Linked DNA regions of Homo sapiens. The protein of the gene in region 2 interacts with the protein of the main gene of each other region in a biochemical or structural test. Each region holds a gene or a part of one and is shown on either strand. Other genes may lie near its edges.

Evidence for each region.
Region 1: the proteins of NFKB1 (region 2) and BTRC form a complex in vitro, tested with the Homo sapiens proteins (3 studies listed by BioGRID, with this or other methods).
Region 3: of the proteins of NFKB1 (region 2) and IKBKB, one has a biochemical effect on the other in vitro, tested with the Homo sapiens proteins (4 studies listed by BioGRID and IntAct).
Region 4: the proteins of NFKB1 (region 2) and ELF1 form a complex in vitro, tested with the Homo sapiens proteins (2 studies listed by BioGRID).

Annotation. Positions count from the first base shown.
Region 1 is NC_000010.11:101,532,160-101,539,188, forward strand, and holds part of BTRC (F-box/WD repeat-containing protein 1A), read left to right. Parts: intron 1-135; coding exon 136-273; intron 274-792; coding exon 793-911; intron 912-2,501; coding exon 2,502-2,751; intron 2,752-3,194; coding exon 3,195-3,313; intron 3,314-4,383; coding exon 4,384-4,494; intron 4,495-6,133; coding exon 6,134-6,212; intron 6,213-7,029. UniProt on the Homo sapiens protein: Substrate recognition component of a SCF (SKP1-CUL1-F-box protein) E3 ubiquitin-protein ligase complex which mediates the ubiquitination and subsequent proteasomal degradation of target proteins. Recognizes and binds to phosphorylated target proteins.
Region 2 is NC_000004.12:102,504,348-102,511,376, forward strand, and holds part of NFKB1 (nuclear factor NF-kappa-B p105 subunit), read left to right. Parts: intron 1-6,532; exon of another isoform or gene 6,533-6,585; coding exon of another isoform or gene 6,586-6,602; intron 6,603-7,029.
Region 3 is NC_000008.11:42,274,277-42,281,305, forward strand, and holds part of IKBKB (inhibitor of nuclear factor kappa-B kinase subunit beta), read left to right. Parts: intron 1-7,029.
Region 4 is NC_000013.11:41,016,289-41,023,188, reverse strand, and holds the start of ELF1 (ETS-related transcription factor Elf-1), read left to right. Parts: upstream 1-3,872; 5' UTR 3,873-3,961; intron 3,962-6,900.

The DNA.
Region 1 (7,029 bases), on a different chromosome or scaffold from region 2:
ACATTTTTTAGTTTTCCCTAAGTTGTGTATATCCCATAGAGTAAAGCATTGAGCCATTGATTGTCATTAAAGCCTAAAAAGAGTTTGATTCTAGGTGTTTCCTAACACTGCCTCTTTCCCATTCCTTCTTCTCAGACAATAGAATCTAATTGGAGATGTGGAAGACATAGTTTACAGAGAATTCACTGCCGAAGTGAAACAAGCAAAGGAGTTTACTGTTTACAGTATGATGATCAGAAAATAGTAAGCGGCCTTCGAGACAACACAATCAAGGTGAGGTCTATTCAGTTGTAGAAAGGTAGCAGAGGGAGCAAGAGTGACCACATTCATAGCGCAGTCTAAAGCATAAACTCTAAGCATTATTTCTAGAAAGTAAGTGAAGATTTTAGATTGTTTCCAGTCCCAAAGCCAAAATCATTTCCTTAAAGGACAGACATCAGCTTCCCCACTATACAAACGGGTAGTCCTAGGGTTAAATTCTCTTCTTGAAATGCACTGAATGGGCTGTTACTCTTTTGGCCATCACATAATTATAGACTACCCTGTTCCTTAATGAAAAGGATAAAAGTTTGCATTAGTACTGAAGCTATATGTGTGTGTGTGTGTGTGTGTGTGTGTGTGTGTGTGTGTGCGCGTGTGCGCGCGCGCGCGCTTAGCTATACCTATAGAAAATGCATTCCACACTACTCTGGGCTTTGATTATTTTGGGGGATCAGACACGTAATAGGACCAACAAGTCTCCACAGCACCCCATCATCACATTGATCAAAAGGATCTTATTTGCCATCCTAGATCTGGGATAAAAACACATTGGAATGCAAGCGAATTCTCACAGGCCATACAGGTTCAGTCCTCTGTCTCCAGTATGATGAGAGAGTGATCATAACAGGATCATCGGATTCCACGGTCAGGTAGAAAATTTCAAATGCTTTTTTGAACTCTGAAATATCAGCTCTGCTCTGTTCTTTGTCATAGATAGTAATTTTGTATATATCGGCACAGTTCTGAAACTAAAGAAGAATAAACCACCAGGTCCCCATCATTTCTGTCAGTCTAGAACTAGAAAACTTGATTTAGAAATGCTTGAGGTAAGTTTACATTTTCGCACATTGAAGAAACTACACATTCTATTTTAATTTGGAGGATCATCTATTACAGAAACTTTTCTTATCCTTATGGTAAACTTTGCATTCCTTACAAAAACCACCTCACGGGGGAATGATATGAATGCAATGAAGCCTTCCTTTCAGGTAGTGGTAACTGTAGTGCAGGTCTGTATTATCTCCTTTGAAACATGTACAGGTGAGCTGTGCTCTCTTTGCCAGCCCCTCCCCTGCCATCCCTGCAGTTTTTAATTGCAAGCTTCACTCAGGTAGGGGCCCTCAATTTCCAGAGGCATTAGTGATTTGATGACACAGCCATTATACTGCTGGAGTCCAGGATAGCTTGAGTTCTGGGTACCAGCAGCACTGCTGGGAACCTCTGTTAGGAATTTTGCCGTAAGCTAAAGGATTTAGCAAACATAATGCATCAAAAGTAACTTTAAAAAAAAAATAGACCTAGGAAAAAAGCGGTTAAGTGCATTGTTAGATACTCTGAAGTTAAATGTTTACCATTCCAAGTTATCCTCTGTGAATAGAAAAGACGGTTCCTGTTTTTTGTCTTTTGACTTAAAGGCATAGCAAGGCATAGCAAACTTGGCCCTTGTAGTTACTGACATTTAACATTTATTGGTGCTTGTGGAGTGAGTGCCCCACAGAATCTAAAACACTGCAGGTGCTAACATCATTTATAAGATAAAGAAAAAATGATATTCTATAAAAGGGGGCTAAACTGGAAAAAAGGAAATAACATGTTATAAAACCTTAAGTAAATACACAAAAATAGAATAATCAAAATATATAATCACACAAAATTCTCAAGCTATCCAAGGGCCCCACACTCTGCTGTGAAGCCCATATTTACAATGGGGGGTCTATTTTAAACCCCTACCCACTTCAGAACACAGAAATGGGGGCTTAGAATTAGAGTCATGGTTATCTTGGCCTTTGACCTTTATGATAAAACCTGAGATCCAGGGTAATCAAACTCAAATTCACATTACTAAGTATGTGACAGAAGCATCTTGGCCTATTTCATTTCTGGCTCCTGAGGGCTATCATTGGAATGGGCACTAATGCTATTGTTATTAATCAGATTCCTCATTTAAAATGTATCTTACTAATGGTATCAAATTGAATGTGAGAAGTTTTACAGTCTTCAAGTCTGGGCCAAATTATTAGGTGACAGTGGCTGCCACTTCATCCTTGCCCTCCACAACTTGCCCATATTTCAAGCAGTATGTCTTAAGGACACACTGGCAGCATCCCATCCCCTTCCTTCTCCCACTCTCCCAGTCTGGCCCTCTCTCTAAATATAAGGGGTGGAAGGGCGCATGATGGTCAAATATAGGTAACAGATTGTAGCTTGAGTACCATCTAAATCTCATCTATCACTTCCAGAGTGTGGGATGTAAATACAGGTGAAATGCTAAACACGTTGATTCACCATTGTGAAGCAGTTCTGCACTTGCGTTTCAATAATGGCATGATGGTGACCTGCTCCAAAGATCGTTCCATTGCTGTATGGGATATGGCCTCCCCAACTGACATTACCCTCCGGAGGGTGCTGGTCGGACACCGAGCTGCTGTCAATGTTGTAGACTTTGATGACAAGTACATTGTTTCTGCATCTGGGGATAGAACTATAAAGGTAATAAGGCATTTTTCAGTAAGTTTCCAACTTAGAATGGGGGAATTCATATGAAAATTTGATCAAGGGCAATTTCATATTTAAACGTTGCTACAGAAAAATGTAATATTTAATTCAGAGACTAGTCTACAAGTGAAAAGGTGTAATAAGTGAGACGTTGTGTGACAATTTATCCTAGATATTTTATTCCTATAAATAGTGGTGAGTGTGAGAAGAGACTAACCCTAGAAGAGTAAATCAATCTGAGGAATTCTCATGTGGTAACAGCCAACTGCAAATTAGCCTCTGTTACCATGAATTTAAATTGTCCTTTGTTTTATTTGTTTGAGAAGACTTCCCTCTAATGGTTCAGTCCTGTTTTCTGCTTCTCTAAGACTCCATTTGCCATAGATTTTACCAATAAAAGCACCAAATCAACTGCTCAATGCCATTTTCTTTTTCAGGTATGGAACACAAGTACTTGTGAATTTGTAAGGACCTTAAATGGACACAAACGAGGCATTGCCTGTTTGCAGTACAGGGACAGGCTGGTAGTGAGTGGCTCATCTGACAACACTATCAGGTGAGCAGCAAGTGCCTTGTATCATAAGGGATCAATATTATGCTCCCATTCATTATTAATGCACAGATCATACAAGTCTTCAATTTTGTTATGTTTATAATCAACTGTTTTTCCTTTCTGTAGCTTCTTACAGGTCAGAAGTTTGCCCCAGGCAGAGAAGCAGCACAGCAAAGCCTTTTGTTGCCCTTCTTTTTAAATTTCTCCTGTCTACCGTTGAAAAGTGCTAATAAACAGCTAACAGCCTTTTCTTTGCCATTGTTTTTAAGAAATGAAAAGAAAGATTTGTTTCCTTACTAGAAATTATGTAATTTTTGTCTTAGCATTACATAATTGGCCAGAGAGTTACCTGTCTTTGAAATTATGAAGATTTCACAGTTGGAAGTCCTTTTTGGGGTTTTCCCTTCACAAAGATGAATGACATAGATATGATTATAATTTGGAAGATTTATCCATCCTCTCCCTTCAGTGAAGTATTAAAAGGATGAAAAGGCCATTAAAAAAGAGCTACTGTTTGTTATATCTAAGGAAATTATTCCTAGAAATCACTTGAATTGCTCTGAAAACGTACAGTTTTTATAATTAGTACACAAAAGTTCTTGAGAACTGACTTTGCATTTCTATTCTCTGAGAAGAGCTGTCCTGGACAGTGGTGAAAGAAGTGTCTGCCGTGGCAGAGGGGGAGGTGCTTTGTGAGAACAGGACATCACTGATAATCTGTATCTCTTTCAGTTTGGTGACTTCAGGAAACTGCTTTCTTAGCTTGGTCATTTCCTTCTCAGGCAACTGCGTGCATTGAATTCGTTTTTATGCCTGGAAGAACCTGTTTACAGAATTATGTAAAGCCCTGTGCTTTGAAAATACATTTTACATTTGAACTTAAACCTACATATTTCTGTGTGAGTTATATAGCAGAAAGGAAATAAATTACATTGAAAGCAGTACATATCTGTGTGGGTGGTGATTGATTTTATTTTATGAATTTTTAGAAGGCATATGAGGTGTATTGTTATAACATTCCAGGCTTAGAAAAGAATACGTGAAAATTCACCTGACTTAATTTTCTCTTCCAGATTATGGGACATAGAATGTGGTGCATGTTTACGAGTGTTAGAAGGCCATGAGGAATTGGTGCGTTGTATTCGATTTGATAACAAGAGGATAGTCAGTGGGGCCTATGATGGGTGAGTGTGCTAACAGAGTGTAAAAAAGAGAAAATCTACGTCTTAATCCTTCCTTATGTTTATGGTGTTAAACATAACCATTCCTTGTTTCTAAAAGCTTATAGATTTTACACAAAATATCTGATACCATATTTCTTTAATCCGTGTATTTACCTCTCCTTGGTTTAGTGTCCTGAAATATTCTTCCCATTCATTTTATTATACTTGTTTGCACATGGTTGTCATTCATATTTTGGTTATTTGGTTATGTATTTGACTGTTTTGCCCTGTAAAGCAAAGAACAAGAAAAACCCAGTGTTAACAGGCTACCCATGTAAAAGGGTAACCTGTTAACAAAACAGAAACACTAGAGGGCAGTATTTGGGGACTTAGTGTGGTAAGATCTTGAATTTTGATTTCTTGGGTTTTTTATCTCTTTGAGTAATTTTTAAGAGTACAGTTCTCTTGTCATCACTTGTCATCCTAGCATTTCATTTATGAGTTTAGTCATCTTTATTTTCTTCTAATTTCTAGTGGTTATGGAATCCATTAATTTTGTGAATGGACCCCATGTCCACCAATCCTAAACACAGAGTAAATTCAAACAAAAGTAGTCTGGGCACAATGGCTCATGCATTTAATCCCAGCACTTTGGGAGACCGAGACAGGTGGATCATTTGAGGTCAGTAGTTCGAGACCAGCCTGGCCAACATGGCAAAACCCAGTCTCTACTAAAAGTACAAAAATTAGCCAGGTGTGGTTGCGGGCGCCTGTAATCCCAGCTACTTAGGAGGCTGAGGCAGGAGAATTGCTTGAACCAGGGAGGCAGAGGTTGCAGTGAGCCAAGATTGCGCCACCACACTCCAGCCTGGGCAACAGAGCGAGACTCCGTCTCAAAAAAAGAAAAAAAAATAGTTATTCACTTAGGAAGAACTCTTATCATTTCTTTTTGTCAATCTGCCTGATTTTGGCAGCTTTTTAAATATCAGAAACTAACAACATTATTTTAGTTCATGAGTTAACTACACTGATACATTCATTAGCCAATGCAAGCAGCAGGAAGTGTAGACTGCTCACTTCTTCTGCTTTGGGACAGCCATCACTGTTACAACCTTGGGAAATTGTTCAGAGTGTGGTGACATGTTCCAGCTTGGTCAAGACAATATTTTCTTATTGTCCTGGCTTTGATCTGTACCCACCTGTCTTGGAATTTGTCTGCTATGTACCTTGAGGAAACATGGCCTATTAAAAGATTTTTGGAAGAGCTACACTTATCTTATTTAAATCAAAAGATGAGGGCTTGCTTATATAAACTCCATTGCTCTTACATGGACCCCAGTCCCTCAGTACATGTGACCTGGGCCACTCTTAGAAGTGCCCAGGAAGAGGATGCTTCACAGTTGTAGATTTCTAGGTCTGTGTAATATCATTAAAAGGTCTAATGTACAAGATCTCCTCTTGATCCCAAAGTATGGTATAACTTTACTGTTAACTGTCTTCAGTTTGGTTAAAGCTAGCCTGTTTCTCATTTGTAGGTTAATCACGTACATTTGAACTATACTCACCATCCATATTTATTGCCATGAATTTCTGCTATTCTTCCCTGCCTTCTCTTACATTTGCTTTTAACTAACATTTTTGTCCCCTTTTTGATCTTTAGAAAAATTAAAGTGTGGGATCTTGTGGCTGCTTTGGACCCCCGTGCTCCTGCAGGGACACTCTGTCTACGGACCCTTGTGGTAAGAGCCTTGCTGTTTAGAGAGCATTGGAGAGCAGGTGGGGGAAGAAATTAAACGTTGATGTGCTGTGGAATATGGATTTGAATTTAATAGTTACAACCTCACAAAACCTACAACTAAGTGGTAAGGCAACCAGTACATGACAATAAAATATGTTTATATAATTCCTTTCATCCAAAAATGCTTTAGAGACTATATATGGAGAGAAATGTGGCAGCTGTTTAACAGCTGCACAGCAACTCTACACAACAGTTTAGTGCAGGGAGTGAATAAGAATTCTGTATCCACCAGAAACAGCAGGGGGTACTAAGGGAGAGAGAATATAATTATTCAAATTGGAACCTGTCCAAAATCTGAGGACCTGTACACCTGTGCCTTCAAAAAGTGCCCTGGGGGCCGGGTGCGGTGGCTCATGCCTATTATCCCAGCACTTTGGGAGGTCAAGGCAGATGGATCACCTGAGATCAGGAGTTCAAGACCAGCTTGACCAACACGGTGAAACCCCATCTCTGCTAAAAATAAAAAAAAAATTAGCCAAGCATGGTGGCAGGTGCCTGTAATCCTAGCTACTCAGGAGGCTGAGGCAGGAGAATCACTTGAACCTGAGAGGCGGAGGTTGCAGTGAACCAAGATCATGCTTGCACTCCAGCCTGGGCAACAAGAGCGAAACTCTGTCTTAAAAAAAAAAAAAAACTGCCCTGGGAATCTGCATGAATCCCCCTGGTCAACCCCTTAGTTCTGCAGCCTATTCATGAGGTAGTGCCTCCAGCAACTTGAGCCCATCTTTTTTGTTCCCCATATACCCCCTTTTGACATT
Region 2 (7,029 bases):
GATTGATCAGAAATCACATTAACAGGAATGGATGTCTATGCAAAATTTCTCATTAATTTTCTTACTTTTAGTAGGAAGTTTGTTTTATTCGGTTGGTCTGTTGGTTTTCTGTTTACAAGGTGAATTGTCTACAGTAGTGGGATTGTTATATTAGAAGAGAAGGAGAAGGAAAAATAGAAGTTAGTGCTAGAGGATATGTTAAGATGTTCTGCTCCTACATCTACATTTGTGTCTAATCAGCATTAATTGATGACTACGTCTTGGTAAACAGTAGACCATACTGGAGCAATTTACTCTGCTTTTTGGGAATTAGTTCTCATTTGCACTCTTGCACCTCCCATAAATACTGAACTCACTTGTAGTGTTCTTAGAGGTCAGCAATAAACCATCAAGAGCATATGATCTCTCTTTGAATTTTGTCACTACTTTGGAGACAGACAGTTTGGAAGAACTGAAGGTACTCAGCCTCAGGGAGAAAGGTTTGAACGTTTTGGCATAGTCCTGCAAGTCAGTTTGGCTCCTTGACTGTGAATTTTTTTAATCAAAAAAGATTAATATTTGAAACCACATAATTTGGACAGTTAATAGTTCTGGTAACATAACCAAGCCTTTTATCTTTGTAGTATTTCATTAATTAGTATCCAGTGCCTCACTTTTAGAAGAAAAAAAGAGAAAAAAGTAGTAACATTCTTTTAATGATGATGAAATTGCTTCATACCTTTGGTCTCTGCTGTATTAGGGGTTGTTCCTGGGTGCAAATTAATATACTGTCTTTTACATTTCCGGAGGTTGTTGACCTGGCCTTGAAGATCAGCCAACAGTTTAGAAAATAAGTTGTGCAAATTGCATTGCTACACCTCAAATAATTTAAAGCCTGACAGTTCTGTACAGAATAAGAGTCACATAAGATGTGATTTGTTAAAGATTATAGAAATCTCAGAAGATAGATTATGGATGAAAATATTTGTTTAATTTAGAGTACTAATAATAAAAATAGTGCATTTTACATTTTAAAAAGAAAACAATTTTTATTGTGTCATATTTTCTGTAGTAACAAACAGAATTAATTATCAGTAATACAAATTTCATCTGCTTTAATTTATTGCCTGTTTTTGAAATTAGAATAATGATATATTTGGTTTAATTATCCATTACAAATTGCCTTATTATTTTTCATTCATCTTTCACCATTAATCCAGAAACCTTAAAATAGCTTTTATTTTGACCCATGCCTTCAGTAGATATCAACAGACTTGAGTTCATCTATGGATCCTATTAGTTTAAACTGTGACAAATTTTGACTGCTTAAGCTTTAGAAAAGAATTTATTCTTTAAAATAGCCAAAATTATAAAAAATGAAATAAAGAAAAAGCTGTTTGAGAGAATCAAATACTCTAGTTTAACTAAAAATAAATAATATCTAATCAATACTGACGAAAGAAATATCTGATGCTTAGCATTGTACTTGTTGGTACATAGTAAGCAATCATTAACTGTTAAATGAATGAATGATATGAAGTTGTTGCAAAATTTTTTTTTAAATGGACAGCCATCTTCTATAAGGAACAAAAATTACATTATTTTGCTTTGCCTTCTGGAAAGAAAGGAGCACAAAATAGTCCTTGTGTCTTAGATATTATGGAAATCTTATCTAAAGACCACTTGAAGTTTACTAGAACAAATAATTTATTAAAAAGTATCTGGCGCCTTCCAAAAGGGGAACATTTCATTCTGAAAGAGGCATTTATGAACTAGAAAAAAAATGCCTTTTAGTTTCAAAGTTTTAGAGGCACCAGAGCAAGATTATAAAGTAATTGGAATGATAAAAGGTGCTTGTAAAATTGAAAAATGTAATTTTTTGGTGAAGTTAGAATTTCTGTACACTCCATTGAAACTGTAATATCAAATACTAATACCTCCAAAAAAGAAACAATGCTACAAGCACTGCTTGGTAATCTAAGAATTGTTAACACTTATCTAAATTAATCAACCAAAAAGTTAAAACAAAATATGTTATTTTGTTATGTTACCTCTAGAATTAAACACCTATCACCCATAAATCTGTGACTGTTAAAAGTTACTAGATGGCAAACCTCAGGAACAAGCAGGCAGTTAGCAGGGTTTACTGTACTTTCCACTTTCATACTTTAATGATTTTTCCAACACTATAGAAGCTGGGGCCTCATCCTAGCACAGTTTGTTCATTATTTTTCAGTTGTAGCATTTTTTAAAAGTTGGCCTTGAATTTCTGAATTGAACCATTTATTTTTTTGTGGACACAGTTTTTTAAATGAAATATACCATTTAGACTAGAAAAGAGCAAAATGCCAATACTCCCTGTCCTAGTGTCATTGTGCCCCCTGGGAACCCTAATGCAGTCCTGTGGGAAAACAACCATTTTATTGAGCGCTGCTCACTTCAGTTCATTCTGCTTTGCTGCCACTTAGTTCTGGTTCTGACCCTGATCTCCCCTCACATCACTCACAACAAACATTCAAGTTTAAAAATTAAGTTAAAAGTTAGTTACATATATATGTAACTAATGTGTATATTAAATATACTGATATATATTAGTTACATATACAGATATGGCAACAACAAAAAAGGTTATATATATACATATTTGTAACTAATATGTATATTAAATATAATGATATATGTATAAATACATATTTGTAACTAATATAATTATATTTAATATATATTAGTTACAAATATGTATATATAATATTTTTTGTTGTTGCCAGCAAAATGAGAAAGAAATTAAATGTTAACATCTATAACAATTGCACTGTAAAGCCGTCATTGTTGAAAAGTACTCCGAAGATTAATAGCGGCAGTGTTTGTTAAAATAATAAAATAATCCAGGCACTCTGCCTGTGACTTCCCCATGAGATGGCTTCCAGAAAAAGATAAATTTTTGTGTGTTCCCTTACGAGTTCAGTCTGCAGCTTCTGGGCATGAAGAGAAGCATAAACAAAACAAACAAGGCTCTAACTTTGTTATAATCCTTACGCTACTAGTAGAAATGTATGGACAATTCATGCATTTCATATTGGAAAATAAAGCTATTAGATTTTTCTTTGAGATGAACCTTTTTTTTGTAATTTATTTTTTATTTTTTATTTTTTTTCAGTAGAGATGGGATTTTGCTCTGTTGGCCAGGCTGGTCTCAAACTCCTGACCTCAAGTGATCCACCCGCCTCAGCCTCCCAAAGTGCCGGGATTACAGGCGTGAGCCACCTAGCTTGGCCAAGGTGAACCTTTTTGATAAATGAGGCTCACTAATATTTCTAGGATTTACTTTTCACTAACTTGAACTAAAGAAAGTATAAGACCTGCATAAAGTTGAGCATACCTCTATAATGTCCCATTTTAAAAAGCAATTTGTTTTTAATGACTTTTATTTGTTAAAAGCAGTTATTTCAAAAAATTATTTTTATTATTTATCATGTCATTTGGACTGAAAATACTATACCATATTTCAGTGTTAGGGCACACCTATCCCTCTTTATCCCAGACGTCAATTCTACCATATAACAAGTATGTAAAAAAGAAAACATAAAAGTGATGACAGACTCCCTAATCAACCTATTTATTGGTTCTAAGCCCAAGCCTGCAGTTCATTTAAATAGTGAAAATAGATTACTTAATTGTCTTAGAAAATATGTCTTCCATGACAAGAATTTTAGGAATGAGAAAATAACTATTTTTGGATGTTTTAACACAAATTCCCAAATCATGTTTTATTGATATTTGAAGAACCTCTTTGTCTACCAGTTCTTAAGTATAGGCTTATTTTGTAAGGCTTAAACATGTATTGGTGTTTGACTGTTAAGACTTGATCTATAACCTTCAGTGTCTTTTTCTTTTAAATGGGGTATGGACTTGGTAATGAGGCCAGAGGAGAATACCTTACAATTTATAGCATCTGCATATAATACAAGAACCTTCATGATTTATAAAATTAAAATGATGATGATGTGGAATGATGGAAGAAGCATGTGTGGGTGGCTATTTATGTAGAGGAAATTAGAAGTTGAAAGCAATGTTAAGAATTAAAATTAAATTACACTTAATTTTTTGCTCAGTTGGATAGTCAGGAAAGTACTTAAATCAGCAATTGATTTACGTAAAATCAAAACTGAAAACTGAATATACAATCTAGGAAATAGGAAAAAAATTTTTAGTGTGTTCATACTGCTAATTTCAAACCAAGCAAAAAACCTGGGGAACTACTTTTCAGAGGAGATGGCTTAAAATGAACCAAAAATATAGCCATTTCTCTACCCTATTCATTTAATGCATTCATTTATTATACTGCTAATACATGATAAGGTGAATAGGTTAAGCATCGTTTGTATATGTGTATGTGATTTTAAACCTGAGTCTTTTGAAAGATTGGTCAAAGCAAAGGATAATGAAAGCATAAAGATTTAGGGGGAAGAGTCCTCTATAAAACTAAGACTTAAACTTTGTTATCAACTTGAATGTGAAGATAGAATAATCTAGAAAGTGAATGAGAATTATAAATAAAAGGACAAATCATATATCTCATGGTTGAGAAATACAATGAGATAAATTGTATATCTCATCTCATGGAGGGTCATAATGAAAGAAGTAAGAGAGATTGCCCTTGGATAGAACCTTTCGGCAGACATTTCATAATGGATTATCATATTTTTGCTAAACTGGTAAGAATGGACTTTTCACCACATTATGAAAAAACACTTTAGAAGTCAGTTGCGATCAAGCAAATATAAGTACCTGGGAAATTAAAATCAAAAGCACAGCAGTCCAACAATAGTCAAATGCATTTACTCACTCTCATACCATATCATAGCGTTAATTTGAGATAATGTCTTTATGGTGTCTCTTTATATATTTACTCGATTTCCCATTTAAGACATTTAACCAAATTTAAAAAGCAATCCTTAGAAACTTTAAAAATATTTCCTATTTTAAACCATTACATAATCATTTACCCTGCAGTTACAATTCTTTTTTTGTGATGGGTGGGGAAGTATCCCATTTCTCTTAGAAAGTCTTCTGTAATAGCCAAATAGGAGTCAATCCAAGTTGCTTAGAGAGGTAGTTCAATCCTGTGTTGAAATAGATGACTTTTGGAGTAATTGTGCTATATTTACTGAGTATCTGTTGAACTGTAGGAGTCCAGTCATTCAAGGCAAGCTACAGAAATGATTTTATTGCTGAGGCACTTAAGTATCTTCACATCTATATGCCAATATTAAATTTCTCATCATCCTTGATCCCCACCCCTTTGCACAGATTGGTATCCCCAGCACATTAGGGAATGCGGTTGTTAGCCTGTTAGGGTCCATTCAGTAGATTTCTCATGCCAGAAATCTAGAAGCCCTTCTTATACATTCAGCTTTCTTCTTCAGTCAGTCACCAAGTTCTATCAAGGCAGCCTCCTCATCTCCAGAATCCATCCCTTCCTCGTTGAATTTCTAGATTTTATTTTTGCATTGTCTCCTGCTTCTAACCCATCGTTCATTTCGCATAATGGTCAGCTTTCTAAAGTGTAAATCGGATCATGTCTCTGCAGTGAATCCCAGTTGTCTTCACAAGCTGATTCTCGCACACCTCACCCCCTTACTCCCTCCGGTGTTCCCCAACCATCCCCTAATCTCAAATCCTCCACACCGACTTTCAGTTTCCTATCCACAGTTTCTGACTTTGAATGCCTTTGCTTATGCCCTCCCTGTATGAGAAGTGCCTTTTCTTTCCTAGCCATCCTGCTAACTTCTAAACCCTTAGGCCTGGTTTGAGCATCACCATTTCTCTCACTTGCCTTTCTGTTTTCTCCCTCCCCTTTCCATAAAGAGTTATGTGCCCCCATTCTGTGTTCTCCTGAATTCCTGTGGGTCCTAGAAAAGAAACATCTTGAGGGCAAGGAGTTCATCTTATTTACTTTTTATTTGCACAGCACCTGGTGTGTTTGCTGAATAAGTAAATACCGAACAAGATATCAAGAGACAGTGCTGCCAATTAACTGTGTGGCTCTGAGCAAGTTAATTAACTTCTCTGAGTCTTATTTTTGTTCTGTAAAAAAAATGAGGTTTGACAAAATGAGCATCTCTCTCTAAAATTATGTGTTTCTTTGATGTAATTGTATTAATTGGAAGACTTCAGATTTTCTTGCCATATCAAGATAGGTCAACTTAAGAAAAATGCATGTGAGTAAGTACCAAGCCAATTCTTGATTATCAGTATGATAATATGAGGAACTGCCCATTTTGTCGATAATAAGTTATAATTTTTGGTCTCAGTGTAGGTTCTTTCTCAAATCCAGATGTTTCTGGTGTTGCATTTTTTCATTATTATTCAGTCTCTCGCATTCATATTTCTCCAAAGAAATTTATGGAAAACTTGAGACAAAAATTGAATGTAAAGTTTAATATTTAAATGCTAGATTGATTCAAGGTCTCACTAATTATAACTATATTTGGAGGGAGAAGAAGGGGAGGTGGTGGTAGTATGAGCTGAATCCTCCTCTGTTCCTTCCTAGAAGGAACACAACGTCCTACATCAAGAAAAAAGACAGAAGCATATCTTGGAGATATGAAAAGAACCACCAGGTAAACTAAAAAGAAAAAGAGTGTTAAAAAGTCAGCCTTTAAAAAGCAGGATTGGAGATGAGGAGGGGTGGAGTAGGGGAAGCATTGCTTGTTTATAGAAGCTCTTCCATCTTCGTATAGTGTGATTTTTATTTTTTTATTATTTTTTCCTTCCTTTTTTTTGACCTCCAGCTTTAGTATAGTACAGTTGACAGAAATTATATATGTTTATGGTACACAAGATGATGTTTTGATATACATATGCATTGTGAAATGATTAAATCAAGCTGATTAACATAAGTAGGGTTTTATTTCTTTAACAGTGATTTATTTGAATATATGTTGAGTCCTTTCTATGTGCCAGACACAGTTCTAAGGACAAGGCACACAGTGCCAAACAAGACAGAAATCCAGAAATTCATGGAGCTTAAATCATGTAGTCTTTTCA
Region 3 (7,029 bases), on a different chromosome or scaffold from region 2:
ACCTCAGCCACCCAAAGTGCTTGGATTACAAGCGTGAGCCACTACGTCCGGCCTGAAATATACAATAAAGTTTTATTCACTGTAGTCACCCTGTTGTTCTTTAGAATACTGTAACTTATTCCACCTAACCGTAATTTTGTACCCATTAACCAGTCTCTCCCTATTTCCCTCCACAACTCCCCCCACCCCCACCACCCTTTCCTGCCTCTGGTGACCACTATTCTACTTTCTACTTCTGCGAGATTAGTTTGTTGTTGTTGTTGTTGTTGTTTTGAGACGGAGTTTTGCTCTTGTCGCCCAGGCTGGAGTGCAGTGGCGCGATCTTGGCTCACTGCAACCTCTGCCTCCCAGGTTCAAGTGATTCTCCTGCCCCAGCCTCCCGAGTTGCTGAGATTACAGGTGCCTGCCACCACACCTGGCTAATTTTTGTATTTTTAATAGAGACGGGGTTTCACCATGTTGGCCAGGCTGGTCTCGAACTCCTGAACTTAGGTGATCCCCGCCGGCGCGCCCCCCCCCCCCCCCGCCATCCCAGCCTCCCAAAGTGCTGGGATTACAGGTGGGAACTACCGAGCCTGGACGAGATCAGTTTTTTTTTGTTTGTTTGTTTTGTTTTTTGAGATGGATTCTTGCTCTGTTGCCCAAGCTGGAGTGCAGTGGCACAATCTTGGCTCGCTGCAACTGGTGTCTCCCAGGTTCAAGCGATTCTCCAGCCTCAGCCTCCCAAGTAGCTGGGATTATAGCCGTGCACCACCACGCCTGGCTAATTTTTGTATTTTTAGTAGAGACAGGGTTTTACCATGTTGGCCAGTCTGGTCTCAAACTCCTGACTTCAGGCGATCTGCCTGCCTCGGCCTCCCAAAGTACTGGGATTACAGGCATGAGCCACTGTGCCTGGCATTTTTTTTTTTTTAATTTTTAATTTCTTTGGAGATAGGGTCTCAATCTGTCATCCAGGCTGAGTGCAGTGGTGCCATCATGGCTCACTGTAGCCTTGACCTCCTGGGCTCAAATGATCCTTCTGCCTCGGCCTCCTGAGTAGCTGGGACTACAGGTGTGCGTTGCCATGCCCGGCTAATTTTTGATTTTTTGTAGATAGGAGGTCTGTCTGTTGCCCAGGCTGGTCTCGAATTCCTGGACACAAGTGATCCTCCCACCTCAGCCTCTCAAAGTGCTGGGATTACAGGTGTCAGCCAACAGACTTTACCCAACTGAGATCAGTTTTTTATTAGCTCCCACGGATGAGTGAGAACATGTGGTATTTATCTCCCTGGGCCTGGCTTAATTCCCTTAATGTAATGCCCTCCAAGCTCATCCATGTTGCCACAGATGGCAGGATTTCATTCTTTTTTATGGCTGAATAAGAGTACATTGTGTCTGTGTACCACATTTTCTTTGTTCATTTGTTCATTGATGGACATTTAGGTTGATTACATATTTTGGCTATTGTGAATAGTGCTGCAGTAAACGTGAGGGTGCCCATATCTCTTTGATAAACTGATTTCCTTTCCTTTGGATAGATACCCAGTAGTGGGATTGCTGGATCATATGGTAGTTCTATTTATAGTTTTTCTTTTTTTTTTGAGACGGAGTCTTGCTCTGTCAACCAGGCTGGAGTGCAGTGGCATGATCTCAGCTCACTGCAACCTCCGCCTCCCGGGATCAAGCAGTTCTCCTGCTTCAGCCTCCAAGTAGCTGGGATTACAGGTACATGCCACCATACCCGGCTAATTTTTATGTTTTCAGCAGAGACGGGGTTTTACCATGTTGGTCAGGATGGTCTCGAATTCCTGACCTCAGGTGATCCGCCTGCCTCAGCCTCCCAACCTGCTGAAATTACAGGTGTGAGCCACTGCGCTAGCCTTGTTTGTAGTTTCTCAAGGAACCTCCATACTATTTTCCATAATGGCTGTGCTAATTTACATTCCCACCAATAGTGTATAGAGTTCCGCTTTCTCCACATCCTTGCCTTCATTTGTTACTTTTTGTCTTTCTGATAATAGCCATTTTAACTGTGGTGAGATGATATCTCATTGTGGTTTTGATTTGCATTTGTCTGATGATTAGTGATATTGAACATTTTATCATATACTTGTTGGCCATCTGTATGTCTGAGAAATTCCTGTTCAAATCATTTGCCCATTTGAAAAATTGGATTATTTATTTTTTTGCTGTTGAATTGTTTGAGTTCCTTGCATATTCTTGATATTAATCCCTTGTTGGATGGATAGTTTGCAAATAATTTCTCCCATTCCATAAGTTGTCTCCATAGGTTCCATAGGTTTATTCTGTTTTTTCTTTTGCTGTGCAGAAGCTTTTTAGTTTGATGTAATCTCATTTGTCTACTTTTGCCTCTGTTAACTGTACTTTTGAGGTCTTATCCATAAAATCTTTTCCCAGACCAATGCCCTGAAGCACTTCCCGTATGTTTTCTTGTTTTTTTTTTTTTGAGACAGTCTCACTCTCAGCTGAGACAGGTGCGATCTCGGGTCACTGCAGCCTCTATCTCCTGGGTTCAAGCGATTCTCCTGCCTCAGCCTCCTGAGTAGCTGGGATTACAGGCAGCGCCATCACACCCGGCTAATTTTTTTTTTTTTTTTTTTTTTTTGAGACGGGGTCTCGCTCTGTCGCCCAAGCTGGAGTGCAGTGGTGTGATCTCGGGTCACTGCAAGCTCCGCCTCCCGGGTTCATGCCATTCTCCTGCCTCAGCCTCCCAAGTAGCTGGGACTGCTGGCGCCTGCCACCACCCCCGACTAATTTTTTTTTTGTATTTTTAGTAGAGATGGGGTTTCACTGTGTTAGCCAGGACGGTCTCAATCTCCTGACCTTGTGATCCGCCTGCTCGGCCTCCCAAAGTGCTGGGATTACAGGCGTGAGCCACCGCACCCGGCCACGTGTGGCTAATTTTTTTTTTTTTTTTTTTTGCAACGGAGTCACGCTCTGTTGCCCAGGCTGGAGTGCAGTGGCTTGATCTCGGCTCACTGCAACCTCTGCCTCCTGTGTTCAAGCGATTCTCCTGTCTCAGCTTCCCAAGTAGCTGGGATTACAGGCACCTGCCACCATGCCTGGCTAGTTTTTATATTTTTAGTAGACACGGGGTTTCACCATGCTGGCCAGGCTGTTCTCAAGCTCTTGACCTCAAGTGATCTGCCCACCTTGGCCTCCCAAAGTGTTGGGATTACAGGCATGAGTCACTAACAGGCGCCTGGCCTGTTATTTATTTTTAAAAAGCCAAAAGCCAGCTTCCTCCTCCTGCCGGCTGAACCCCACACAGTCTGTCTGCACCTGCCTCTCCATCATTCCTCCCCTTGGCTGCCTCTGTTTTGAGCGCTGAGCCCTCTTGCCGGACAGGCCTCCCCCTCCTCCACATTCCTCCAGGACCAACTCTAGGCCATCTCCTCCTCATATGCGTCTGGGATGGCTTTGTTCTGTGGCAACTGGTTCTCCCGGTGAGTTCCTCTGGGCTGGTTCCTGTGCCGCCCTTCCTGTCTGCGTGTGGAGTAAGTCTTGTCAGGACCCTGCATTCCTGGTCAGCCAGGGCTGGGTCTGGCCTTTGGAGTTCCTTCAGTTCTCCTGTAGCAAGTGCCTGACGTTGTATATGTGCTAGGTGCCCCAAATCATCCACTCTGCCAGTCCACAAATATTTATCGAATGTCTATTATGTGTACATTGGTAATTAAAGCAGACCTTTGGAGAAGGGAAGGAGCCATTAGTCAACTAATTATAAATGTAAGCTCCTAAGTATGGTAAAGTGTGAGTTGGGAGAAGGACCCAGTGCACTGAGACCTTCCGTTGGGGTGGGATCAGTCAGTGTCAGAGGAGGTTCCCCAAGGAAGTGACACTTGAACTGAGGCCCTAGTAGAAGTCAGCTTGACAGAGAAGGTGGGAGGAGAGTTCCAGGCCAAGGGAGAGGCTCCTGAGGGGCCTCTGTGGAGGGCAGGTGTGGCAAGTGGGCAAGACTGAAGGCCAGCGTGGCCGGAAGGGAGGATGGGGCACAAGTGCCTGGGTGGCTGAGGGTGGACGGTGCAAGTCAGATCCTGTGGTGTTTTTTGGGCAGTTTCAGCCGAGGAGGTTTTGTTTTGATGGAGGAGCAGTGGAACGATGTTAGAGGGAGGCGCTGTGCCCATGGGGACAGATTGGGAGGGCCCAAGCAGTGGGCAGCGTGCTGGGAAAAAATCAGCTCTCGGAAGAAATGCCTTGATCCATAGTGTGCAGCAGTTCTCATGGAGTAGCTACTCCCACCAGGGCTGACTTCAAGCCACCAGTAGTTTAATAGCCCGCTCCGGCCTGATTCCTGAGTAGTTAACAACCAGCTCTCAGTGACTGCTACTACAGTGTCACTGGCTCCGTCCCAGTGATGCAGGCAGACCAGGTCTGAATGTTTTGGAGTCGTCTAGGTGAGAGATGGGGAGAGGTGGGCAGACTTAAGAGATATTTAGCCTGGTGCAGTGGCTCATGCCTGTAATCCCAGCACTTTGGGAGCAGAGGCAGGTGGATCACCTGAGGTTGGGAGTTCGAGACCAGCCTGACCAACGTGGAGAAACCCCGTCTCTACTAAAAATACAAAATTAGCCAGGCATGGTGGCGCATGCCTGTAATACCAACTACTCAGGAGGCTGAGGCAGGAGAATTACTTGAACCCAGGAGGTGGAGGTTGCAGTGAGTCGAGATCGTGCTACTGCACTCCAGCCTGGGCAACAAGAGCGAAACTCTGTCTGAGAAAAAAAAAAAGAGAGAGAGAGATTTAAGGGGTGGAATTAACAGCGCTTAGTGGTGGAGTAGAGGTGGAGGGGAGCAGGAGGAGTGGAGTGCCTGCAGGTCCTCAATGATGCCTACCCGTGAGCCCGGCCCAGGCCAGGAAGCTCTCTACCTTCCTTCCCCGTGGGTTCTCCCCAAGTTTGGGAAATCTCTAGGGCTGCTTTGGGTGCTGAGGAGAAGTCTTTGATCATTGTCCAAGTTCAGAAGATGAGCGTGTATGTTCTCTGTTGGGAACCCCTCTGTTCACAGCCTCTTAAAAGAAGCAGCTGGGCTATGGTGGTGTTGGTTCCTTGACTCTGATGGTTTTACTCCACGTAACAACAGTGTGCACTTTCCTGACACTCCATGCACTGCATCTTGTCTGCAGAAGAAGGAATGTTGTAGTTATCACAATAGAAGTTACATGAAAAAGCCCCTAAGCATGGGTATCCTCAGTCAGAGAAGTGGCCTGATAATCAGAGGCATCATTTACTGAGAACCTGCTATGCGCCAGCATCAAACTAGGTATTTACGTGCTTTCTCTCCAGCCCTCACAACTCTGAAAGGAAGTACTGTTGTCTTTGTTCCCATTTTATAGTTGAGGAGACTGAAGCACAGTCTCTGTGACTCACCCACAGACCTGAGCTCGCAAGCAAAGAGGCTAGGATTGGAACCTGCGTCTGTTCGGAACCCAACCTCATGCTTTTTCCATTGTGCCTGTGGCTTCTCTGTGGTGAGGACTCAGGGGGAGGCCTTGGTGTTCCTTAGGCTCTCATTGTTCACCACAGTCTAAACCTTTTTGAAGCAGGAAGGGGAAAACACTTCTTTATTGATTTTTTGTTGTTTGTTTTTTGAGACAGGGTCTCCCTCTGTCACCCAGACTGGAGTGCAGTGGCTCGATCAGGGCTCACTGTAGCCTTGAACTCCCAGGCTCAAGGAGTCCTCCCACTTCAGCCTCCTGAGTAGCTGGGACTACAGGCGTGAGACACCACGCCTGGCTAATTTTTTTATTTTTGTAGAGATGAGGTCTTTCTATGTTGCCCAGGCTGGTCTGGAACTCCTGGGCTCAAGCAGTCCTCCTGCCTTGGCCTCCCAAAGTGCTGGGATTTCAGGCATGAGCCACTGTGCTTGGTTGAAAAACACTTCTTTGGAGGACAAAACACTTATAAGTCTTCCTTGTTAGACAGAGAACCCCACATTGAGTGTTTCCCAGGGAGGGAGGGCAGTGAACAAGCGAGCCCCACCACAACCTGCTTCCCCTGTTCTTGTGGTTCTCCTGCCACGCGGGCCTCACCATTCCACATTGTGTCGGGACTCCCTAAGACCTCCAGCCCAGGGGTCAGCACAAACCACTTCCCAGTACCGTTTAGATAGGCTGATATTTTCAATGAGACCTTTGTTAAATACAAAGGAAGAGGAGGAGGAGATAACCGAGTGCTCCCACCTGGCAGCATGTTTTGGGAGTGGGGGCGGGAAACACGATACTCAGTCACACAGACCTGGGTTCAGATCCTGGCTCTGTCAGCGTCTTGGCTGTGGGTCCCCACTTTTTGCATGGATTATGGGGATTCTCCAATACTGATCTCCTCAGTGCTGGGTCCCCAACATGGCTGGGCAGGATGTGGGTCAGCTACCTTCTGGAAGCCACCCAGGGTACCTTGTGATATCATCATGTTCTGTGTACACTTGGCTGTGAGGAGGGCCAGGAAGCGCTGCCTGGGGCCCTGCGGGATGCTCGTTGGGGTGGAGGAGGCAGTGTGTGTACTGGCTGTTAGAAGGCAGAGTATTAACGATCCCTTCTATGAAGCAGCACGGACCTGTACTTGTCCCTTTATGGGACAAGGCAAAGCTTTCCACAGCTTATCTGTGTGCTTGGAAGCCTTAAAGCCTCTGCTCCGTTCAGTCACTTCTCTAGGGATTTATAGAGCCTGGGCCCGAGCTCTGTCAGGGATACCAGGAAAAAAGGGTCCCTGCCCTTCGTGTGCTTACTCTCTGATCACAGTGATCCAGGGAGCATTCAGAAATGCATTAAGTGAGTCTAAATCCAAGCACCGAACTGCATGGATAACAGTGGCTGCCATTTTTCCAGGGCATCATGTGGCATCTGAGCTGGGTTCCCTGTCCGCATGATCTCTCCCGAACGCTGGGGAAGGGAGGCTTCTTGGGGTGAATGGAGCTTTAGCAGGATCTGGAAAGGAGGTACACTTTCGAGGGCCTGGCAAGAAGACAGAAGCCGACTCAGGTGGGCAGAGCAGCATCTCCACAGGGCCAGAAAAGGAAGTGAGGCTGCGG
Region 4 (6,900 bases), on a different chromosome or scaffold from region 2:
TGGTGGAGGAAATAAATAGTATCTGAAATTTAGTTGGCATTTAAATTCATTCAGTTGACTCAATCTCTCTCAGCTAATAGTTCAAATATACATGTTGACAATTCCATGAGCAGCCATGAAAGCTTTATATAAGGTATATACTGACTTGATCCATATCTAATTTTATAAATAAACATACCCACAGTATGTACATTTCATATACCTAAACTAGATTTATTTCTTCCTTCCTCCCTTCCTCCCTTCCTTTCTTTCTTTCTGTTCTGGGGTACATGTGCAGAACTTGGATATTTGTTACAAAATGTGGAGGTCTGACACAGAGTCTTGCTTGGTCACCCAGGCTGGAGTGCAGTGGTGCAACCTCGGCTCACTGCAACCTCCACCTCCCAGGTTCAAGCGATTCTCCTGCCTCAGCCTCCTGAGTAGCTGAGATTACAGGTGTCTGCCACCACACCTGGCTAATATCCGTATTTTTAGTAGAGACGGTTTCACCATGTTGGCCAGCCTGGTCTCGAACTCCTGAACTTCAGTGATCCACCTGCCTTGGCCTCCCAAAGTGCTGGGATTACAAGCGTGAGCCAACGTGCCTGGCCTAGATTTCTTTTTGTTAAAATCAGTTTTATTGAGGTATGGTTTATATGCAGTACAATTTGCCCTATTTAGTTTTATAGCTCTATGAATTTTGACAATGTACATAAGTCATATACCGGTACCACAGTCAAGATACAGAATATTTCTGTCACCCTCAACAGTTCCTTGTCTTCCTTTGTAGTCAACCCCCTCCCCTCATTTCCAGCCCCTAGAACTGATAGGATTTCTGTGCCTTCTGTTTTGCCTTTTCCATTATGTCACATATAAATGGAATCATACAGAGTCATGGAGTCAGTCTTATTTTGTTCAGCCTAATGCTTTTAGGTTCATCCATGTTGTCACATATATCAGAAATTCAGACCTTTTTTGTTGCTGAGTAGCATTCCATTATATGGATATACTATACCATTCCATTACATGGATTTATCCATTCACACATTGATGGACATTATTTGGGTTTTCAATATTTGGTGAATGATAAAACTGCTATATATATTTGCATAGAAGTTTTAAAATAGACACATATCTTCATTTCTCTTGGGTAAATGCCTAGGAATGGGATTACTGGATCATGTGATAAGTGTATGTTTATAGAAACTGCTAAACTATCTTCCGAAGTGGCTAAACTTTTGCATTCCCACCAGCAATATATGAGAGTTGTAGTCGCTCCATGTTCTCATCAACACTTGGTATTATTGGTGGTTTTTGTTTTGTTTTGTTGTGGTGGTGTCACATTAATTTGCATTTCCCTATTGAGTATTGATGTTGAGATATTTTCATGTACTTTTTTTGCCATCTGTATGACTTCTTTAGTGAAGTGTCTATTCAGATTTGACCATTTAAAAAACTGGATTGTTTTCCTATTTTTGAGTTGTGAAAGTGCTTTATGTAGTCTGGATAGCAGTGTGTGGACTTATTTTAATCCTCATAATCTGTGTGGTAGATACTATTAGGCTAAATGATAGATAAATAAGTTATGATGCAGGATTGTTAAGTAATTGCCCAAGATTACATAGCTAATAGGTAGCAGAGCTGGGATTGAAACCCAAGTAGATTGACTAGAACCTGTGTCAAACTGTTTGCCTTTTTTTTTCTCTTTGATCCTCTCATATGCAGAGATTGACTTATTGGGGCTGTAAATAGAACAAGGATCCAGTTCCTGTAGGTGATAGAATAATGCTAATAGGGATACCCCTGGGCAGAGGGATAATATATTGTAATGGCAGCTCTGGAGTCATCTCCTTAGGAACAGCTAAGATATTTGTTTCTGTTGAAGAGGTGTAATTATTTTCCCTTTAATTCTCTTCACATTACTGGTGGCCAGAGTACTTCCTTTAAATTATGTTTGGAATATTTGCCATTATTAAGTAATGAGGTGCATTATATAAATGGATTTTCTCAATAGCAGAAGCTTATCCTTTTAGATACCTGTTCTACATAAAACATCTCACACACTTGATGTTACACACTTTGGCTTTCGAAGGCCTGTCTTAAACTAATGCTGACTTGGAGACACTTAGTGTATGGTAATATACTTAGGGAATATTACAACTTACTGACCTTATATAATGGCTTCATATCTGAATACTTTTAAAGTTATGTTTATTTTTAGTTTTGTAAGGTGGGTTTTTTTAATGTCATTATCAGCTATTTCACTTTTTCTGACATCCTTTTATAATACTGTTGCCCTCTTTTACCTGTTACAGTTTTTATTTCTAATTAGCCAAAAGAAGATAATCAAATTGTTAGGTTTACATTCATGTTATCTAAAATAAATTTCAGATATGGAAAATTACCTGGGGGGAACTTTCCAGGGAACAAGTGAATCTCCCGTGACTGCTCAGCGGACCTTGTTTCTTGGTGCATGGGCTCTGAATAGTCATTTTGTGTAAGTGAACTAAAGTAAGCTAAATATGACATTTGACAGGAGAAAACATGGTCTATATTTCTTTTTAATAAATTTTTAATTAACAGTTTGTAAAACCATGGAGATTATTTTTCAGTAAAAGGATAAACCAAGCAATCTTCAGTGTAAGGAATAAATAGACAGCAGGCAGAAAGTTGGTTCACAATCATTGCTGTTTTGCAGCATTTTGTAAAGTTCCTAAGTCAGTGACAGCTTGTGCTCTCAACTATGCCTCTGGTAAGCCAGAATAAACTCCCAACTAATTAACTAAAGGGAGAAAACCTTGCTAAATCCTATTTACTTTTTGTAAGATACCAGGACGAAGGCTATCTATTGAGTTGCATTTATCATTTCAAGCGCTTTGGAAGTACTTAGTGCTTTCAAGCCATTTTGATTAATTTAAGCTCTTAGAATAAATTAATAAGTATTCACCCAGAGGCCAGAATAAGTAGGTGTAGTAATATTTCAGTGGCTTGGGCACTTTGTCAGATGTATTCTGACTTGGAAGGCAGAGCTTCACTGGCCACAGTTGTCCCCTTAGGTTGGCCTTGCCACAATTGCAGTGGAGCTGTAGCAGGGTGCCTGGCACAAGAGGCTTGAAATACATGTAGAAAATTTTGCTTGAAAGGTAAGTCAAACTGTAGCTATCATTTGGAAGTAGTAGAGTTATGAACTATGATCGTACCAATACTTTTTTAAAAGGGTTTTATCAAGCTTGCAGTTTATTTAAAATCATTTTGCTTTGTTGGACTTTAAATTCCTAACATTGGAGTGTGGGTTTTTAAAAATTCTGTAAACCAGTTTAATTCACACTTATTTTTCCACTGAACTTTGAATTTTCTAGTGGATTTTATCTGTTTAGTGAACTTACAGATCTGCATCTGGCTTTGTAGTTTGCTAGCCTTTCCAGACTACATAGCAATATATCTCTTTCATATGAGGGTTAATGAGTAGCCAGATTACACTCACCAGTCCATTGTTACATTAAGAGCCACAGAGTTTGCTATCTCCCTTCCATCCCCTTTCATACTTTTTTCCTTTCACAGTTTTATTTGATATAGTAAAGCAACTTTTAAAAATTGAGATTTTTATATTTTAAAACAATATATAGTTTTTAATTTTGCTCCCTTGTAGGTTCTTACTCTATTTTATTGTTAGTTTTAAATTATGGCAATTAATATGAGCTTAGTAATGGTCTAATCAAGGTAGATCTTGCTCCTTGCCTCTTCATCCCCACTTTCCTATACCGTTTTTACCTGCAGATTTGCATGTTTGACCTAGCAGAATAATTGGGTCCACAGCAACATGGGCGTGCCTCCCTTAGAAACACTTGGTTTCATGTATGACTCATAAGCTGAAGCACAGACACCACTTCCCCAATCTACAGGAGCCATTTTAACAGCTAAAACTTGTCGGATTGCTTTTTATTTTCAAGCTCAAAAGACGATAGAGAAAGAATACTTGAAGGTAACTTGTTACAATTTTGTATGTTTGCTTCTGGCTTTTTCTTGAGCTGATAAACAGAGGGTGGTTCTTACCTGTTGAAGAACATGGCTGAATGTGTTCTTTAACCCTCTGATAAAATGTGTGTGGTCAGTCACATGCCTGATTGAACTTAATTGCTAGGGGGAAACAAAGCACTGAAATTCTGGAAAGTTTTAGATCTTCTTGCTAAAGCATTTTGTATGTCTTTGTGATTTTTTTTCTATGTAATTTAAGAATAAAAGAGGTTTTTTGTTTGTTTATTTGTTTTTAAGTACCACAAAGCAAACTAAGGTCAAATTTTAATTTAAAAAACCTAATTGTATTTTTTGGGGTAGTTGAAGTTACAGTTAAGTAAACCGTATTATTCCTGTGTGATATAGATGTTAAATATCCAGGGGCAGTGGCTTTGTTTTGGCATTTTAGCTAAGGGTGAAGTTTTGGGACAACTCAGCCATAGGTGTTGCTCATTGACTGTTATTTATTTATTTTTTTCTCCCTCTCTGTTTTTTAAAGTTAATGAAATTATATTAAATGTTTCATTTTGGAAACCCAATGGAAATTTAAATGAATTGTTATTTAGATAATAAGTAAAAATGAATATTAGATTATTTAGATAACAAGTAAAAGTGAATATTAAATAGAGGAAGAAAGACTAGAATGATTCATTTACTATTAGAAAAAAATGAAGTTTTATAATTCACACTGAAAACTTGTTCTGAGTAACAACCTTAGAAGTAAAGCTGTCTTCTAAGGAAACGTAGTTATTTCAATTTTGTGTAAAAAGAAAAAGTGATGAGTATTGGCCTTCCTTTTGTATTACTGTTCTTAAAATTTGCCTGCCTTGAATTAAAAACCTTCTGTAAATGAAAAGATTGCTCAGTCTTTTCCTGAAGTACTTGTCATTGTAGTTATGAGATTTTGGCTGGCAAGTATACATCCTACTGTGCCTTAAAGTTCTAGGTGCTCTGTAAAGATGAGTGCAGTAGTATTTTATTTCTGAAACATATTTATGAAGATAAAATTGGAATATGCAGTGATTCCAAAAAATAAAGTTTTTGGATATAAAACTTGCCAAATCATTTCTTGTTGACCAAAATGATATTTAGCTAGTTCTTTGAGAATTTGCTATGCACTTACTAAGTGCTTGAAGGCCTGTCAGATTAAAGGGAAGAGACAAAGGCAATCAGTTATTATTTCTTACTCTTTTGTAAGGATTGTTGATATTAACAGATCTCAATTTTGCGGTCTTACAAGAAAGACACAGCGGACATTTTACCAATTCAGCTGAGCCATTTGCTATCATCTTTGTTTGCATATTGCTGGTTTAGTCAGCCTTTGAGTAAGCAAAAGCTGTATTTACTTCTAGTCTGGTCTGTGTGAAAAATCTAATGAAGACTTTTCTATTTTTTTTTTTAACTTTTTTAAGGTGGTGATCCATAAGAGAAAAATCAAGAGGCACACAAATAAGCGGCATAATTAAGATCTTATTTATTAAAGAGAAGTAGAGGAATTTGGTTTCTTAAATTTAAGAAGCTGGTACAGTTAAAGTAGTATAGATATTGTTTATGTATTTTCTTACGTGATAGAGACTGAAGTGGAGTTTCAAGGAGAAGGGAGAAGGGGGGGTAAAAAGAAGAGAACCAAGAAAAGACCAGAACAATTTATTAAGTATTTCCCTCTCCACGTTTTTCCTTCCATAAGATTGAATGTAAGTTTGAACTGACCCATCAGAATTAAATTTAGAATTAGTGATTTATAGAACTTTAGTGCTGAAAGTGACTGAAGATTGTCCAACTGCCTCACTTTTATAGATGAAGAAACAGTGGCCCACAGAGGTCCTGTGATTTGCTTGAGGTCATGCAGTACCTAATGGCAGGGCTTCGCAGTCTGGAACTGCTTGTGCCAGTCACAAGTGATGCTTTGTTTGAAATGCTCTATATTTCCTTAAGAGTAAATAAAACCTTAATTAAGATGTTTGGTGATAATCTTGGTGATAAGTTGCAACCAAATGGATCAACCAATGATTTTGAAAATGTAGTTTTCTTTTTCATCAGAAAGATGATGCATTCATTTTATTTCTACAACAACTTTTTGTTTTTCACTGTTAGAATTTTTTTGTTCATGACTGCTTATTTTAAGATGGCTTTAGATGGAAATATGAAGAGGTGGGAATTAAATTTGAGCTTCTAGATACAAAGACAGTTTTATTTCTGCTTTAGTTTTAGCTCATATATATATATATATATATATATATATATATATTTTTTTTTTTTTTTTTTTTTTTTTTTTTTTTTTGAGACGGAGTTTCACTCTTGTTGCCCATGCTGGAGTGCAATGGTGCAATCTCGGCTCACTGCAACTTCCGTCTCCCGGGTTCAAGCAATTCTCCTGCCTCAGCCTCCCAAGTAGCTGGGATTACAGGCATGCGCCACCACGCCCAGCTAATTTTGTATTTTTAGTAGAGACAGGGTTTCTCCATGTTGGTTAGGCTGGTCCTGAACTCCCGACCTTGGGTGATCCGCTCACCTCGGCCTCCCAAAGTCCTGTGATTACAGGCACAAGCCACCGTGCCCATCCTTGCCTCATATTCTTTTAGGAGGGCAAATATTGTTTAATGTGATACCTTGTTATACTAAAATATGTGTATGTGTAAAACTTTGCATGTGACTTTACAAAATCCAGAGGTGTCTAAGCTTTAACATTACACTTATCTTAAATTTGACCTTATTATAAGATAGTAATCTCATTTTATTTATCTTTGTCACATCTTCTCCTCCTCCTTTGAAATAAGAGAATTGTTTGGTATATACAAAATCTTTTGTCTGTTAACTTTTTGGTGTGTTTTATTGGGGTGGTTGGAAATTCTCTAGGTCTGAAATTCAGATTTTTAATGGTTTATGCATAACTGCTGAATCTCCTAA